Regions from separate parts of the Homo sapiens genome. Here region 1 is linked to region 2. Evidence: fine-mapped expression QTL. Tissue or cell type: lung. Region 2 holds a variant in brackets; the other region holds the start of a gene. All regions are shown on one strand. Distances are between the middles of the regions.

The links. PIP is the estimated chance that this variant, and not a neighbour inherited with it, causes the effect.
Region 1: it holds the start of WSB2, and the variant in region 2 is fine-mapped to the expression of WSB2 in lung (TOPMed, PIP 0.94).

Annotation. Positions count from the first base shown.
Region 1 is chr12:118,057,595-118,065,691 of GRCh38, reverse strand. WSB2 (WD repeat and SOCS box containing 2) reads left to right here and starts at 4,513. Exons shown (of 9, transcript NM_018639.5): 1 at 4,513-4,656. The coding sequence starts at 4,644. It overlaps VSIG10 (V-set and immunoglobulin domain containing 10), which reads left to right. Exons shown (of 9, transcript NM_019086.6): 9 at 1-2,099. LOC124903030 (a long non-coding RNA gene) reads right to left here and starts at 4,232. Exons shown (of 2, transcript XR_007063479.1): 1 at 4,012-4,232. RefSeq lists a silencer at 5,054-5,103.
Region 2 is chr12:117,952,544-117,960,647 of GRCh38, reverse strand. All of the region lies in intron 1 of KSR2 (kinase suppressor of ras 2), which reads left to right. Among named protein-coding and RNA genes, the nearest start is that of KSR2, 12 kb to the left of the region's middle. The variant A/G (reference allele first, on the strand shown) is at 4,445.

The DNA.
Region 1 (8,097 bases), 110 kb before region 2:
AAATATGAAAATCTGACTTGAATTTGTACTCTTTAAAGTTGCGTATCTGCTCTAGTGGGCAGGACCTAGGGCTTAAAGGGGAACTTCCTTTCTCCATTTCTAAGAACTGGGACTCTAAAATGAGAAGCTGGTTGTCTGAAGTAACCCTGCAGGTGTGGTTGGGGAAGGTCTGTTTTCTTGGATGAAGGAACTAAACTAAGCATATCAGAGCACTGTCTTAACCAGTTTTATTTCCCTGGAGATAGAATTCTTTTAAAAAGAGTTAGGGAGCTGGTAATAGGAAGTGCCTTTCATTATAACTACATTTTGCAGAGCTTCATATTTATATACAAGCCTCCTAGGTGATACACTGTTAGCTTGCAGACTTTCCTATGCTTCATTTCTCCTGTTGCTTTCAAAGAAGGCAGGAGACACGTTTAATAACGGAGTATCTGGTGATAAGAATTGCTTGGGCAAACCAGCTCATCTGGACTCTTTCTCAGTCTTGGAAGTGGGAAGAGGAAAACTTGTTTCCTTCCTGCTTCTTAAGGATATTCTGAGGGTACACTGATCAATAACACTAAATTTGGAATGAAAATACCATGTGATGAGTTTAGCCTGCTGATGCTTCCAGTAGATCCTTGTATAGTTTCAAGATTTAAGTTTTCCGATTTCATATAAATTTCTTAAAGTCGAGGACCTTATAAGGGTGCAATGGATGTTTGCTAAATATGAAAAACTGACTTGAATTTGCACTCTTTAATGTTGCGTATCTGCTCTAGTGGGCAGGACCTAGGGCTTAAAGGGGAACTTCCTTTCTCCAATTCTAGGAACTGGGACTCTAAAATGAGAAGCTGGTTGTCTGAAGTAACCCTGCAGGTGTGGTTGGGGAAGGTCTGTTTTCTTGGATGAAGGGATTAAACTGAGCAAATCACTAGAAGTATGCCCTGTCCCCTGCTCAGAACACTGGGGAGCTCAAGAGTGGGCTGCAATGTGCACCCCTCAGGAATAGCTGTGAATTGCAGGTCTACTGGCTTTTTGCTTTTTGTCTTTTGCTGCAAGGTACCCCACGTACTTAACCATTCTCAACAGTGTAAATCAGTGTCATTTTAGAATGAGATACTCAGCTTGCTTCTAAAGTCACTGAATTACTGAGTGAGTCTCTCCTTTAGAGTCTTCGGCAACCAAATTCCAGAATTGAAGAGTCTACTACTCAGAGGCAACAAGATTAAAAAAAGAAAACACAAAAACTGTTGAGGTGAAAAAAAAAAAAAACCCTAGCTAGGAACACAGAGAATGTTTTGTAGGATCACTGGGATATTTTCCACAACTTCCTCTTCTCTAGCACACACATCTGTTGATAGGAAATATTTGAGGGTTTTTCCACTACCAAATGGGAGCTTCATGGTCCTGGTGTCAAACACTATAAACCTTTGACCAGCTGAGCTGTGACTGCTGTCACATATCTGAGTCCTGTGTGCACAGTAATATCCTGGGTCAGGTAAAATCCAGGTCTTCAAGTTTTAAGGATTTTTTGAAGAATTCGGGCTTCTTTAAGACGATCCATGCCCAAATCCACAAGCTTGTTGACAGTGGATTACAGTTTGTGTGGCAAAGTCCAAGTTGTTACACTGTGCTTTAAAAAAAATCTTATCTGCATGTATTGTTAACTTAGAGACCATGAGATCTATTTATCAGGACCAGGAAGATACACACTTCAGGTCCATTGCAACTGACTTTTTTCTTGTTTTTCTCAAACCCTGGTGGAGCCTGGGAAGGGGGCCTCCACAATTCTGTGGCTTTGATATTAGCCCCAATTCTCACAAGCACATACAAGCCCCATAATTGCCGCAGGAAAACACAAGATGGAAAATTGCAATAACCCATGCACTGAGACTTAGAAAATCATCCTTACTAGGCAAAATGTATTATGATGCAATAAGTGCCAACTGATATTTCTCACGTTGGGACTGGCCAGGAACTGCTGCAAAGAAAAATAAGCAGCTCCTTCTCCATTATTTACATTTTAAGATGTGGTGGGGGGAGGTTGGGAGAAATTAGTTCTGAGGTTATCATATGCCTTTTTTAAAAGATAATGGAATAAAGCTATTTTTAAGTAAGTGCTTTTGTGATCTTGATTGAGACCTGGTTAGTAAATTGAAAGACTTGGAAAAACGAACTTGCCAAAAAAAATTTTTTTTACTAGCTTTTTAAAAATTGGTAACAATATTCTTCTCACCTCAGCCCCGCCTTTTTTGTTTTTTTTTTTTTTTTTTCCTCCAGACGGAGCCTCCATCACCCAGGCTGGTGTGCAATGGCAAGATCTCAGCTCACTGCAACCTCCACCTCCTGGGTTCAAGTGATTCTCCTGCCTCAGTCTCCCGAGTAGCCGGGTTTACAGGTGCCCGCCACCACACCCAGCTAATTTTTGTATTTTTAGTAGAGATTGGGTTTGGCCATATCGGCCAGGCTGGTCTCGAACTCCTGACCTCAGGTGATCTGCCCGCCTTGGCCTCCCAAAGTGCTGGGATTACAGGCATGAGCCATCGCGCCCCGCGACCTTACCCTTTTATTCTTTTCCATGACGTGTACATAAAAACGAGGCCTGTAAGACTCCAGGAATCGAAGGAATTTGGGAGACAAAAAATGGAGACTCAGAAAATTAGAGAAGAGAAAAATGGGAGGGGGGAGCCTGGACAATAAAACGGGGGTCCTCAGGAGGCAGGAAATTAGCGATTAAATGGGAGCAGAGGTGGAGGAGGCCGACACTGGTGCCAGAGATAAAAGTGGAGTCCCAAAAAAAGGGGTGCGCTGGGCCGTTTTTAAAATTGGGAAACATAAAAAATACCCAGTGGAAAATGAAGAGAGAGAACGGGGCATGCTAAAGTTAACATGGGCGGCGAGAAAGGGACAGGTAGCCAGCGGAAAAGGGGGAGACTGAGAAACCGGCAGGTTCAAAGAAAAGAAAAAAAAAAACCGGCCAAGCGGGGTGAACAGGAGTGTAACCCAGGAGGCCAAACGGGACACAGGAAGGACGTACCCAGGGCTCATAAAACAGGGGCCTGGGTAAAAAAACCCGAAACATTAAAACGGAGAGACCATGGTGAAAAAGAACACGGGAACCTCAGTTACCGTAGAAAACATAGGTTGCGTTAGGAAGCAAAGAAATTTAAAATGGAACCACTGCGATCCGGAGCTCTGGGACCAGTGACCGGCAAATGGAGAGGGCACTTGGAGGGAAGCGAAGAAAGGCGGGGAGAAAGGAATGAGAGGCGGGAGAGTGACTTGAATGAAGCTGACACCAAGAACCGCGGGAAGAGCTTGGGCCCAAAGCAGGAAAGGGAAGCGCTCGAGTTGGGGGTAAGGGGAGGCATTTTGGGGACAATGAGCTGAGCTCAGTAAGAAATCCCCAAGCCACTGATACTACTGGGGACCGGACAACTAAGAAATGGGGTCTTTCAGGCATGAAAAGCCTCCATGATGACTCCTGCCCTGGCCCTGGAATGTTAAAAAGGGGGCGTCTGACCCAAGCGAGCCATTTCTTGAGGCTATGCGGGTAGACAGGGAGAGCAGGTTTCTCAGGGGGACGGGGACAGGCGAGGCTGTCGCCGTAGGTAGGTAAGGGGACAGTCTTCTTCCGAATCGCTCCTGCCCCGTTTTTTATCTCGTTCCCACCCCCACTCCGGTTTTCACCCTGCCCTCCTCTCCCCACCGCCCCGTGTTCTCCTCACTTCCCTCTCCCATTACCGGAGCCATTGAGTAGCCCCCCTTGTTTTACCCTAGCCTTGACCCTCGCCGCACCCCCCAATTCTTACGTCCTCCCCAGCACCCGGTTATTACACCTTCCTTCCACCCCCTCCCCATTTTCCCCTAAGCCCAGCTCTCCCCAGGTTTCTTCTCGGCCAGTATTCCCTCCAACCTATTTCTCCCGCCCCCATTTTTACCCGTTTCCCCCCTCATCGGCCTTCGCATGGCTCCATTTTCACCTGCCCCTCCCCTCGATTTCGCTTCAGCCCCTTTGGTTCCCCTTACCCCCACAGCCCTCGGTCTCCCTCTCTCCGTTCTCCCCGGATCGCCGCTTCCCCTGCTTGGTTTTTCTCTCAGCCCGGCTCTACCACTCTCCAACACCCCCTTTTCCCCTGAGCCCGGCTTCCCCTACTCCGGTTTCTATCGCTCCCCTTTTCCCGGTTTCCCTCAGCTCTGTTCACCTCCCTCCCTTCCCCGTTTTTATCCGGCGCTGGTTCCCCTCAGGACCCCGCACAACCCCTGGGTTTTATCCCGTTCGCGCCCCACCCCGTTTCCGCTCAGCTCCCCCCACCCCTGCCCCATTTTTATCTGGTTCGCGCGTCTTCCCCGCCCCCGTTTCCCCTGAGCAACCCCTCAGCTTTTATCCCGTCAGCGTACCGCCTCCCCGATTTTCCATCTTTTCCCTCAGCTGCCCCCCACCGTTTTTATCCCGTCCGCACCCCCCCTCCGTTTCCCCTGCGCCCCGCCCCCGCGCGTCTCCGCCCGCGCCCACCGCCATGTGACGGGAAGCAGCTGATGGCCTCTCCGGGCGGCGGCGGCGGCCTGGCCGGGGCGGGCGGCGCGGGGGCGGCATGAGGGCCCGCGGCCCGGGGGGCTGAGGCGCCCGCCGCCTGCCGCGGGGGCCGCTCGCGTCCTCCATGGAGGCCGGAGGTGAGTGGGGCCGGGCGCGCCCGTTCCCGCCCGGCGGGGCCCTGGCCCGTTCTCCCCGGGGAGGGGGGAGGCGACCCCGGGGCGGGCTGGGCGGGGTGGGGCGGGGGCTGGACGCGGCGGGGGCGTCCGGCCTGGGAGGTCCGCGCGGGGCCGGCGGGGGTGCGCGCCCGGCGACCAGCTTTGTTTCACTTTCGTTGTCAGTGGCCGCCACCCTGACTCCCGCCGGCGACAGGATCGGGAAGATCGGGCTTCTGCGGGAGGAGATCCCCCGACCGGGACAGAGGGGGCTCCCGGGTGGGACTCGGGGCGGGGGGCACCAAGCCCTAAAACGGAGATCCCCAAGGGGGTGGGTGCCCCTGGGTACCCAGGTGCCAGGGGACGCACTTGCATGTCTGGATGGGAGTCACCTCTGTCCCTCACAAGCTGTGTGATCGTGACAGTGGACAAGCCACTGAACCACCGCCACCCACGTCTCAGTTTTGATCTGCAAAATGGGATAATCCTAGTACCTTCCTCGGAGGGTGGCTGGGACCCGGTAAAAATGGGGTCTGGGGTCTGGGTTCCCTATTGAAACAATCTATTCCCAGCCTCTCCCACTGGAGATTAAGTCAGTGGAGGTGGGGCGGGACTGGAGACGCTGATCCCTGGTGACATGTATGATCAGGCAAATTTAGGATACACTGATGGGTGGGGACCTTGCCTCTATTCTTGTTAACTGCCATCCCCATCAGAAGACAGCGTGGAAGTCAGAGGATATTGGATATACCTCAAGCCAGCCCAGATGAACATAAAATCTCAGTGGGAAAGGTGTGTCTCTTATGCAAGGGGAAAAAAACCCCAAGACGCATGCACGCCTTGGCCCTCTCCCCTCCAACGACCTTCCCTCGGAACCCCACTTGGGATAGATTTAGAATTGATTCCGGGAGTCCCAGGTCTTGAAGGACCCGAGTTTAAATGTAATTTCCTTAGGAGAAATTTTCAGAGCAGGTTCAAGGCCTAGGGCTCAGAATTTGTTCCAGAACTTCATGGTAATCTTGCAGCCAAGTTCAAGCTTCATCCTGGTCTGGAGGGTTCTGATTGCTGATGGCTTGTTACTGTGGGTGGGAAGGTTGAAATCTGGGTATTCCCTGGGGTGGTGTTACTTTTTAATTTAGGAAATGACATTTCTTTGTTTGCTGAAGTCAGGCATTGAGTTAAAGGCAGCTCTCTCTCCTTCCCATCTAGATAAGGGCTTTCTTTTCAGTGAGTGTTACCCGTAGAATTCTTTTTAAAAGGGCCCCTACTGTTTGTGTAGATCCTATGTGAATCTTTTTATAGCTTCCGTTTGATTTCCATTGCCTCCTTACAGTTCAATCTGAAAGCAATCTGTAGCTAGCCTGCCTTTTTAACAGAAATCTGTTTCCAGTTCTGGGGTTTTCCTAAAGATTGACAACTTCGTTTTGAGGGTGTGGGCAGGGTTGTTGAGAGCTGCCAAGTTACTGTACAAAAAAGGCCAGAGTTTTAACTTATTTTCAAATGGAATAAAGCCCATTGTAAAGGAAATACAATGGGCAACAGTTGAAATCTTCAGAGCAATGGTTAGACTTCACTTATTCATTCAGCAAATATTTGTTGAACGTCTACTATGTGCCAGGCACCCTCTAGGCCAGCCCCGACCAACAGAAGTCTAATGTGAGCCACGTATGTAATTTAAAATGTTCAAGTAGCCACATTAAAAAAAAGAAAAAAGAACTAGGTGACAATTTAAAAACTCTTTCAATACAACATGTCTAAAATATTCCTGCTACATGTAATCAAATAAATTGTAATGTAATGTTTTAGATTTTTTTTTGTGCTAAGTGTTCAAAACGTGTTGTGTATTTTTTACTTACAGCCCATCTGAATTCTGACTTGCCACATTTCAAGTGGTTGGTAACCACATGTGATTTCCCTATTAGACAGTGTAGCCCAATAGCAGTGAACTGGCAAGTTTGGGTGGGTTCAGAAAGAGACAGACAATAAATACGTAAAAATGACAGGCAATCAAGAAAATATCAACCAAATGCGCCGGGGTGGCTCACGTCTGTAATCTCAGCACTTTGGGAGGCTGAGGCGGGCAGATCACTTGAGGCCAGGAGTTCGAGACCAGCCTCACCAACATAATGAAACTCCGTCTCTACTAAAAATACAAAATTAACCAGGCGTGGTGGTGCATACCTGTAATCCCAGCTACTCAGGAGGCTGAGGCAGGAGAACCGCTTGAACTGGAGAGGTGGAGGTTGCAGTGAACCAAGATCTCGCCATTGCACTCCAGCCTGGGCAACAAGAGTGAAACTCCATCTCAAAAAAAAAAAAAGAAGAAGAAAATATCTAAGTGATGGTTATAAAGAAAATCAAATGGTTAAAGGAAAGTGAATGGTGCCAGGCGCAGTGGCCCAGCAGTTTGGGAGGCCAACTTGGGTAGATCACTTGAGCTCAGGAGTTTGAGACCAGTCTAGGCAGCATGGCAAAACCCCATCTCTGCAAAAAATACCGAACTATAGGCGCGTGCATGGTAGAATGTGCCTGTAGTCCCAGCTACTGGGGAGGCTGAGATGGGAGGATCATCTGAGCCTGGGGAGGTCGAGGTTGCAGTGAGCCGTGATGGTGCTACTGCATTCCAGCCTGGGCAACAGAGCAAGACCCTGTCTCAAAAAAAATAAAAAATAAAAAAGGAAAGTGTATGGTCGCTTTAGATAGTGAGGCCAGGATGGTCTCTGAGAAGGTGACATGAGGACCAATCCCTGAATGATAAGATGGAGCAACTGAGGAAAGCTTTTGAGGCCGGTGGAATATCTAATGTACATGTCCTGATACAGGAAAAATCACCTAGCTTCCTGCTGGCTGGGGTCATAGCTTTCATCTCTGTGTTAAGGCTAACTGCTTTGCCTAGAAGAGGCTTATAATATATACCTTTCCATTCAGCCTGATTGTCCAAACACATCCCATTGTTTAATTAGAACACCCTGATCCAGGGCCAGGTGCAATGGCTCATGCCTGCAGGAGAATCGCTTGAGCTCAGGAGATCAAAACCAGCTTGGTCAACATAGCCAGACCCCCATCTCTACTAAAAATTTAATTTAAAAAAAAAAAAAATGCTGAGTGTGGTGGTACGCCCCCGTAGCCCGATACACAGGAGGCTGAGGCGGGAGGATCACTTGAATCTGGGTGGGAGATTGAGGCTGCAGTGAGCTGTGATTCAGCCACTGCACCCCAGCCTGGGTCTCAAAAAAAAAAAAAACCCAAATATATATATGAATATGATATACTTGAAATTTGCTAAGAGTAGATTTTAAGTGTTCTCACCACACAAAAATAAGTATGTGAGGTAATGCATATATGGTAATGAGCTTGACTGAGCCATTCCACAATGTATACATATATCAAAACATGTTATATTCCATAATATATACAATTTTTATT
Region 2 (8,104 bases):
GGACTCAGCTGGCCAGTTCTGCAGATCTTGCCTGACTCACTTGTGGTTGTGTTTATCTGATGGCTCAACTGTGGCTGGAGGGTCCGAGATGGCCCTGCTCACATGGCTGGTGGTTGGCTACAGTGCCTCACTTCTCTGCTCCATGGCTTTTCTGGCAGGATAGCCCGGGTTTCTTACATGGTGGCAGCAACGGTGTTCCTAGAGGACAGGCGCCAGTGTGCAAGCCCTTCCTAAGCCTCTGGTTCTGCAACCTTTGCTAATGTCCTCTTTGCCAGAGCATGTTACATAGATAAGCCCAGAGTCAGTGTGACTATGGATTCCAGGAGGTGTGGTTTATTGAGGGGCTAATGAACAATCTAATGTCACAATATACCACAGCCATGAAAATCAACCAAAACAAAAAGAGCATAGGGGAGCAAGGGAAAGATATGGGATGATCAACAAAGGCTCTTTCATGGAGGTTTTACTAACTTGAGGAAGCCAAGCCATGAAATATTTGGGGGAAGAGTGTGCCAGGCAGAGGGAACAGCAGATGCAAACTTCTTGGATGGGAACATGCTTGGCATGTTATTGGAACCCCAAGGAGTCCACTGTGGTTGGAGAGCAGGGAGTGGGCAGGGAAAGGATGAAGAGGGACGCAGTGGGAGACAGAAGCTGGTCATAGGGGGCTTTGCTAAGACGCTAAGGTACTTGAAGTTTTTTTTTTTTTTTTCTTTTGAGACAGGGTCTCACTCTGTCACCCAGGCTGCAGTGCAGTGGCACTGTCATGGCTCACTGAAGCCTCGACCTCCCAGGCTCAGTCCTTCCTCCCACTTCAGCCTCCCAAGTAGCGGGGACTGCAGATGTGCATCACCATCGCTGGCTACATTTTAAAAATTTTGTAGAGATAGGGTCTCCCTATGTTGCTCAGGCTGGTCTCCAACTCCTGGGCTCAAGTGATGCTCATGCCTTGGCCTCCCAAAGTGCTGAGATTACAGGTGTGAGCCATCATGTCCAGCCTTGGATTTTGTTCTAACTGTGATAGAAGCCCTTTGAACCAGGGGTTATATTTTTAAATGATCTTCTGATTGCTGCAGGGTAAACAGACTGTAGGAGGTAGGAATGAGAGCAGGGAGACAAGTTGGTAGTTATTGTGGAAGTCCAAGCCCTCAATGACTGTGCTTTTGACTGGTATGATTGTTGTGGGGTGGATGGGGCAGGTGGCTGGATTCAGAAGATCAAGTATGTGGAAGGTGCTGATGAATCTGATGTGGATGTGAAGGAGAATCAAGAATCGAAGATTATTCCTAGGTGTTTGGCTTGAGTGCTAGGAGAATGGGGGTCCCCTTGTTTGAAATGTAAGACTGGAGGTGGAATAGATTGGGTTTGACAGTCAAGTCCTGTTTGACATGCTACATTTGTCAAGTAGACAGCTGGATGTGTGAGCTTGGAGCTCTGAGAAAGGCTGGAGATACGAAGTTCACTTAATAGACCATGAACCAATTTTTCAAATTATTAAAGTATTATTATTGTTTAATTAATACATAATAGATGTACATATTTTCAGGGTATGTGTGATATTTAGATACATTCATATAATGTATAATAATCAAATCCAGGTAACTGGGCTATCCATTACCTTAGATGTTTATCTTTTCTTTATACTGAGAACATTCGGATTATTCTCTTCTAGCTATTTTGAAATATACAATAGATTATTGTTTACTGTACTCACTCTACTGGTTTGTTCAACACTAGGTCTTATTTTTTCTATATATCTGTAAAAAGTATTATTTGTAATGGCTACATAGTATGACATGGATGCCCCATCATTTCTCACTTTATTTTGAGACAGAGTCTCACTCTGTCACCCAGGCTGGAGCGCAGTGGCGTGATCTCCGCTCACTACAACCTCTGTCTCCCAGGTTCAAGCAATTCTTGCGCCTCAGCCTCCCGAGTAGCTGGGATTACAGGCGCATTCCACCGCACCCAGCTGATTTTTGTATTTTTAGTAGAGATGGAGTTTCACCATGTTGGCCAGGCTGGTCTTGAACTCCTCATCTCAAGTGATCTGCCCGCCTAGGCCTCCCAAATTGCTGGGATTACAGACCTGAGCCACCATGCCCGGCCCCCATCATTTCTTTAACCAAAATTCTATTGTCAGGTGCTTATGTTCATACTTTTACATTTTTATAACAATGCCACAGTGGACGTCCTTGTGGCTAATTCTTATTTTCAGCTCCTAGAAATGGAACTGCTGGATCAAAGGATATGCAAAAGTTTAGGACTTTCCATGGGTTTTGCCAAGTTGCCCTTCACCAGCAGTGTTGGAAAGGGTTCATTTCCCCATACCCTCAGCACAGGTGTATATTTTATTTTATTTTTTGAGTGTGAGTGTTTTGATGTCTAAGAGCTCAGGGTTAAGGAGGCTGTTGTCTCAGGTCAGAATGAGATCTTTACTGTTTTTAACTGGGTAGGGCCTTGGTACCTGGGGTAATGGGGAATACTTGGTCTTCTGCACAAAGTGGTCAACCTCAGCTGGGTGCAGTGGCTCACGCCTGTAATCCCAGGACTTTGGGGGGCCAAGGCAGGCAGATCACTTGAGGCCAGGAGTTCAAGACCAGCTTGGCCAACATGGCGAAACCCCGTCTCTACTAAAAATACAAAAAAATTAGCTGGTGTGGGGGCACATGCCTGTAATCCCAGCTACTTGGGAGGCTGAGGCAGGAGAATCGCTTGAACCCAGGAGGCGCAGGTTGCAGCGAGCTGAGATTGCATCACTGTACTCCAGCCTGGGCAACAGAGTGAGACTCAGTTTAAAAAAAAAAAAAAAAAAAGGTGGTCAGCCTGTGAGGACTTGGCCCTTTCCTTTTGCCTTGTGTTCATAAAGGTGTGCGTGTGTGTGTGTGTGTGTGTGTGTAACTCACAATTCTAAGTCATGATAAATGTTATGTCTGAAGGGTTCACTCCTCCCTCTGGGTTTTGAGAGTGGATTCTACCAGGCAATTTGTAATCCATCACCTTTCAATGAGTAGAAAACTAGGAAGTCTTTCCACCCCCAGAGAATGGGTCATTTCCTGGGCTTCCACCCATGTGGTCCCAACTGTTGGGAAGAGGGATAGGGCCTGGCCTTCCTTCTTGCCCACCGTGTGCTGCTCTGGGTGTGGGGACAGGGGAGGTGTTGAGAGGCTGAGGAGGACAGGAGACACATGGTGGCCAGGAAGGAGGATGGAGAAGCTGAAAGATGGGAAGGGAAAAGGGACAAAAATAGGAGAAGAAAGTAAAAAAATAGAACGATTTTCTTCAGCAGGGCTTCTGTGATGCTTGGAATGTCCTTCCAATGGGTCGTGACCACAACCGTGGTTGTTGCTCCTTTACAGGCAGGTTTATTGAGGTTTAGAGTCACCAATTTGACCCAAACTGACCGAGTAAGGCAGCCGCAGACACAGGAACAGACAGAGGTTTACTGCTCTCCTGTGGACTCCCCAAAGGTGAAATCTCCTGGAAGAGAAGAAAGAAAGATGAGGAGAAACAGAGGGCGAAGGGGAAGTGTAGACGTTAATGGTAATGATGTGATTAGAGGTGGCAGCCATAGGATTAATGACAATCACGATGATGGAATACTTAATCTGTCTCTAAAATGCTTTCCTTGGTGACTATTATGGATGACAATTATTTGAGAGAAATAGAGGACTGATAGAAACAAAGTAGAAACATAGAGACAGGGGAGGATGAGATAAAGAGAGGGAGATATTTTAGACCTGAGCTATCCAGTATGGCAGCCACTTGCCACATGTGGCCATTGACCAACGGAAATACGGTGAGTCCTAGTTGAAATGTGCTGTTAGTGTCAAATACACACCAGATTCCAAACTTTTTTTAAAAATTAAAAAAAATTTTTTTAAGAGAGATGAGGGTCTCACTATGTTGCCCAGGCTGGCCTTGAACCCCTGAGCTCAAGTGATCCTCCTGCCTTGGCCTCCCAAAGTGCTAGGATTACAGGGGTGAGCAGCCACCCCCAGTCCAAACTCTTAGTATGAAGGAAAAAAAATATAAAATATTGCATTGATAATTTCTATTTTCTGTTTTTTATTTTTTAGCGAGACAAAGTCTTGCTCTGTCGCCCAGGCTGGGATGCGGTGGTGCAATCATGGCTCACTGCACCCTTGACCTCCGGAGCTCAAGCAGTCCTCCTACCTCAGCTTCCCAAGTAACTGGGACTACAGGTACATGCCACCACACCTGGCTAATTTTTAATTTTTTGTAGAGGTGCGGGTCTTGCTATGTTGCCCAGGCTGGTCTCCAACTCCTGGGCTCAAGCAGCCCTCCTGCCTTGGCCTCCCAAAGTTCTGGGATTACAGGCATCAGCCACCATACCTGGCCTTGATAATTTTTTTTTTTTTTTTTTTTTTTTTTTTTGAGACAGAGTCTTGCTCTGTCGCCCAGGCTGGAGTGCAGTGGCTCA[A/G]TCTCGGCTCACTGCAAGCTCCGCCTCCCAGGTTCATGCCATTCTCCTGCCTTAGCCTCCCGAGTAGCTGGGACTACAGGCGCCCGCCACCACGCCTGGCTAATTTTTTGTATTTTTAGTAGAGATGGGGTTTCACCGTGTTAGCCAGGATGGTCTCGATTTCCTGACCTCATGATCCGCCCGTCTCGGCCTCCCAAAGTGCTGGGATTACAGGCGTGAACCACTGCGCCTGGCTGGCCTTGATAATTTTTATATTGACATGTTAAAATGATAACATTTTAGATATATTGGGTTAAATAAAATATATTAAAATTAATTTCACCTGTATGTACTTTCCTTTTTTTTTTTACCCCCTGAGGCTACTAGAAAATTTTAAATTACAAAGGTGGCTCACTGTATATTGCTATGGAACAGAGCTGTTTTTGAGCACTGAAGCGATTTCTCTGTTTTGCCATAATAGAAATCTTGGTCTTGATGAGGACTGAAAATCTGATCCCCCGAGAGTTACCAGGCAGCCATTGATTAAAGCAGTGCATGCATTCCAAAGATGGATGCGTTTGATTTTCCTGAACCAGAAAAGTGAGATCAAGACTCAGAAATAATAACCTGACTCCCTGCAAATTCAAATGGGTGCTTTAAGCAATATAGACTAGTAGTTAGGAGGGCTTGAGCTCTGAGGTGAGATTGTTTGGGTTCCAATTTGGTTCAGGACTTAACTAGCTAAGTAACCCTGTGCCAAATGATCTTTCCTTGCCAAGCCTCAGTTTCCTTGTTTATAAAATCAGGATTGTGGCTCACACCTGTAATCCCAGCACTTGGGGAGGCCAAAGCAGGAGGATTGCTTGAACTCAGGAGTTTGAGATCAACCTGAGCAACATAGGGAGATAGCATCTCTACAAAAAATAAAAAATTAGCTGAGTCTAAGTAGTGGTGCATGCCTGTGGTCCCAGATACCTGGGAGGCTGAGGTGGGAGGATCACTTGAGCCCAGGGAGATTGAGGCTGCAGTGAGCCATGATTGTGCCACTGCATTCCATCCTGGGCAACAGAGTGAGACCCTGTCTCAAAAATAAATAAAATAAAATGATCATTTTACATGAGGTTGTTAGGTGATTAAATGGAATCATGCATTCAGGGGCTGAGTAGATTCGAGTGCCTGTTACATGGCAAATTTTTTTTTTTTTTTTTGAGACAGGGTCTCGCTCTCTTGCCCAGGCTGGAGTGCAGTGGCGCGATCTCAGCTCACTGCAACCTCCGTGTACTGGGTTCAAGTGGTTCTCCTGTGTCAGCCTCCCCAGTAGCTGGGATTACAGGCACATGCCACCATGCCCAGCTAACTTTTTGTATTTTTAGTAGAGATGGGGTTTCACCATGTTAGCCAGGCTGGTCTCAAACTCCTGACCTCAAGTGATCCACCCGCCTTGGCCTCCCAAAGTGCTGGGATTATAGGTGTGAGCCACTGTGCCCGGCCACAAATTCTTAATAATTCTTGCTTTGCAATTTTTGATGATCATCCCCACTGCAGATTGGCAGAAGGGAGCTGAGGGTACTTGAGCCCTGTGTGGTGCTGAGCTCTGCACTGCCATCTGGGGAGATACCGTCCTTGCATGTATCATTCATTTATTCAGTAAATGTTAGCTGAGCCCCAAATGTGTGAGAAGAAGAAACCCATAGAAGGCTTCTATAGCATAGTGGCACACCCACTAGGCTGCAGGTGACAGAAGGGAACAGGATTCCTGACACTCCGTCTGGATCTTTGAATTTGCCCACAGACGATGCACCTCCCATCAGTGGCCGGCAGGCCTTAGTCTTTAAACCACATGCTCATCCCAACTCTAAGTTGGATAACAAAGTATGGGGTTGGGCCTTGCAACTTCTAGACTTGTCTTAAGCTTGCATGGTGAAGAGTTAAAAACTCTGATGTCTGAGCATCTGAAAAGCATATCCTGTAAAGGTAGGGGGGACCCTTCAGAGGTTGTCCAGCCCCATCTTTGCCCAGTGTCCAGATTTAGGGTGAGTGCTACCTCATCAAGCTCACTCTAAATGATTTTCTTAAATCAATTTTTTATTATGGAAAACATACATAAAATTTACCATTTTAACTTTTTTTTTTTTGAGACAGGGTCTTGCTCTGTTGCTCAGGCTGGAGTGCAGTGGCATGATCACAGCTTGCTGGAGCCTTAAACTTCTGGGTTCAGGTGATTGTCCTGCCTCAGCCTCCTGAGTAGCTGGGACTACAGGTGCACACCACCATGCCTAGCTAATTTTTAAATTTTTTGTAGAGGCTGGGTCTTGCCATCTTGCCCAGGCCAGTCTCAAACTCCTAGGCTCAAGTGATTTTCCCACCTTGTCCTCAAAGCGGTGTTGGGAATTACAGGCATGAGTCACTGTGCCCTGCCCATTTCAACTATTTTTAAGTGTATAATTCATTGGCCTTAAGTACACTTATAATGTTGTGTAACCATTACCACTATCAACTTCTAAAAGTTTTTTTATTGTTTCAAACAGAAATTCTGTATCCATTAAGCAGTAACTCCCCTGTACTCCCATCCCCTGGCCCAGCACATGGTAACTGTCATCCTACTTTCTCTATGAACTTAATACTCTAGGTACCTCATGTAAGTAGCATCATATGATATTTGTTATTTTGTGTCTCACTTAGCATACAATTTCAAGGTTCATGATGTATCAGCATTTCATTCGTGTTTATGGCTAAATAATAGTCCATTGTATGAATAGTCAGCATTTGTGTATTCATCTATCAAGTTGAACATTTTTTAGGTTATATTCACCTTTTGGTTATTGTAAGTAATACTGCTATGATCACTGGTATGAGAGTATCTGTTTGAGTTCTTGTTTTCAATTCTTTTTGGTGTATACCAGGGGCAGAATCACTGGGTTATACGGTAATGCTATTTTTAATTTTTTGAGGAACCACCATAATGTTTGCCACAGTGGCTGCAACCGTTTTTTACATTCCCACCAGCAATTTCTCTACATCCTTGATGACTTTTGTTATTTTTCATTTTTAAAATTATAGCTATCCTGGTGGGTGTGAAGTAGTATCTCATTGTGCATTTGATTTGCATTTCCCTAATGACTAATGATGTTGAACATCTTTTCATGTGCCTATTGGCCATCTGTATAGCTTCTTTGGAGAAATGTTTGTTCAAGTCCTTTCACAAGGCAGCCTTTAAAATTTTTTTTTTTTTTTTTTTTTGAGATGGAGTCTCACTCTATTGCCCAGGCTGGAGTACAGTGGTGCAATCTTGGCTAACGGCAACCTCTGCCTCCCAGGTTCAAGTGATTCTCCTGCCTCAGCCTCCTAAGTAGCTGGAATCACAGGTGTGCGCCACCACGCCCAGCTAATTTTTGTATTTTTAGTAGAGATGGGGGTTTCACCATGTTGGCCAGGCTGGTCTCGAACTCTTGACCTCAGGTGATCCTCCTGCCTCCAGCTCCCAAAGTGCTGGGATTTCAGGTGTGAGCCGCCACGCACGGCCAAAAGTTGTTGTTGTTGTTGTTGTTTTTGAGACAGAGTCTTGCTATTGCCTAGGTTGTAGTGTGGTGGCACAATCTCACCTCACTGTAGCCTCCGCCTCCCGGGTTCAAGCAATTCTCCTGCCTCACCTTCCCAAGTAGCTGGGATTACAGGCACATG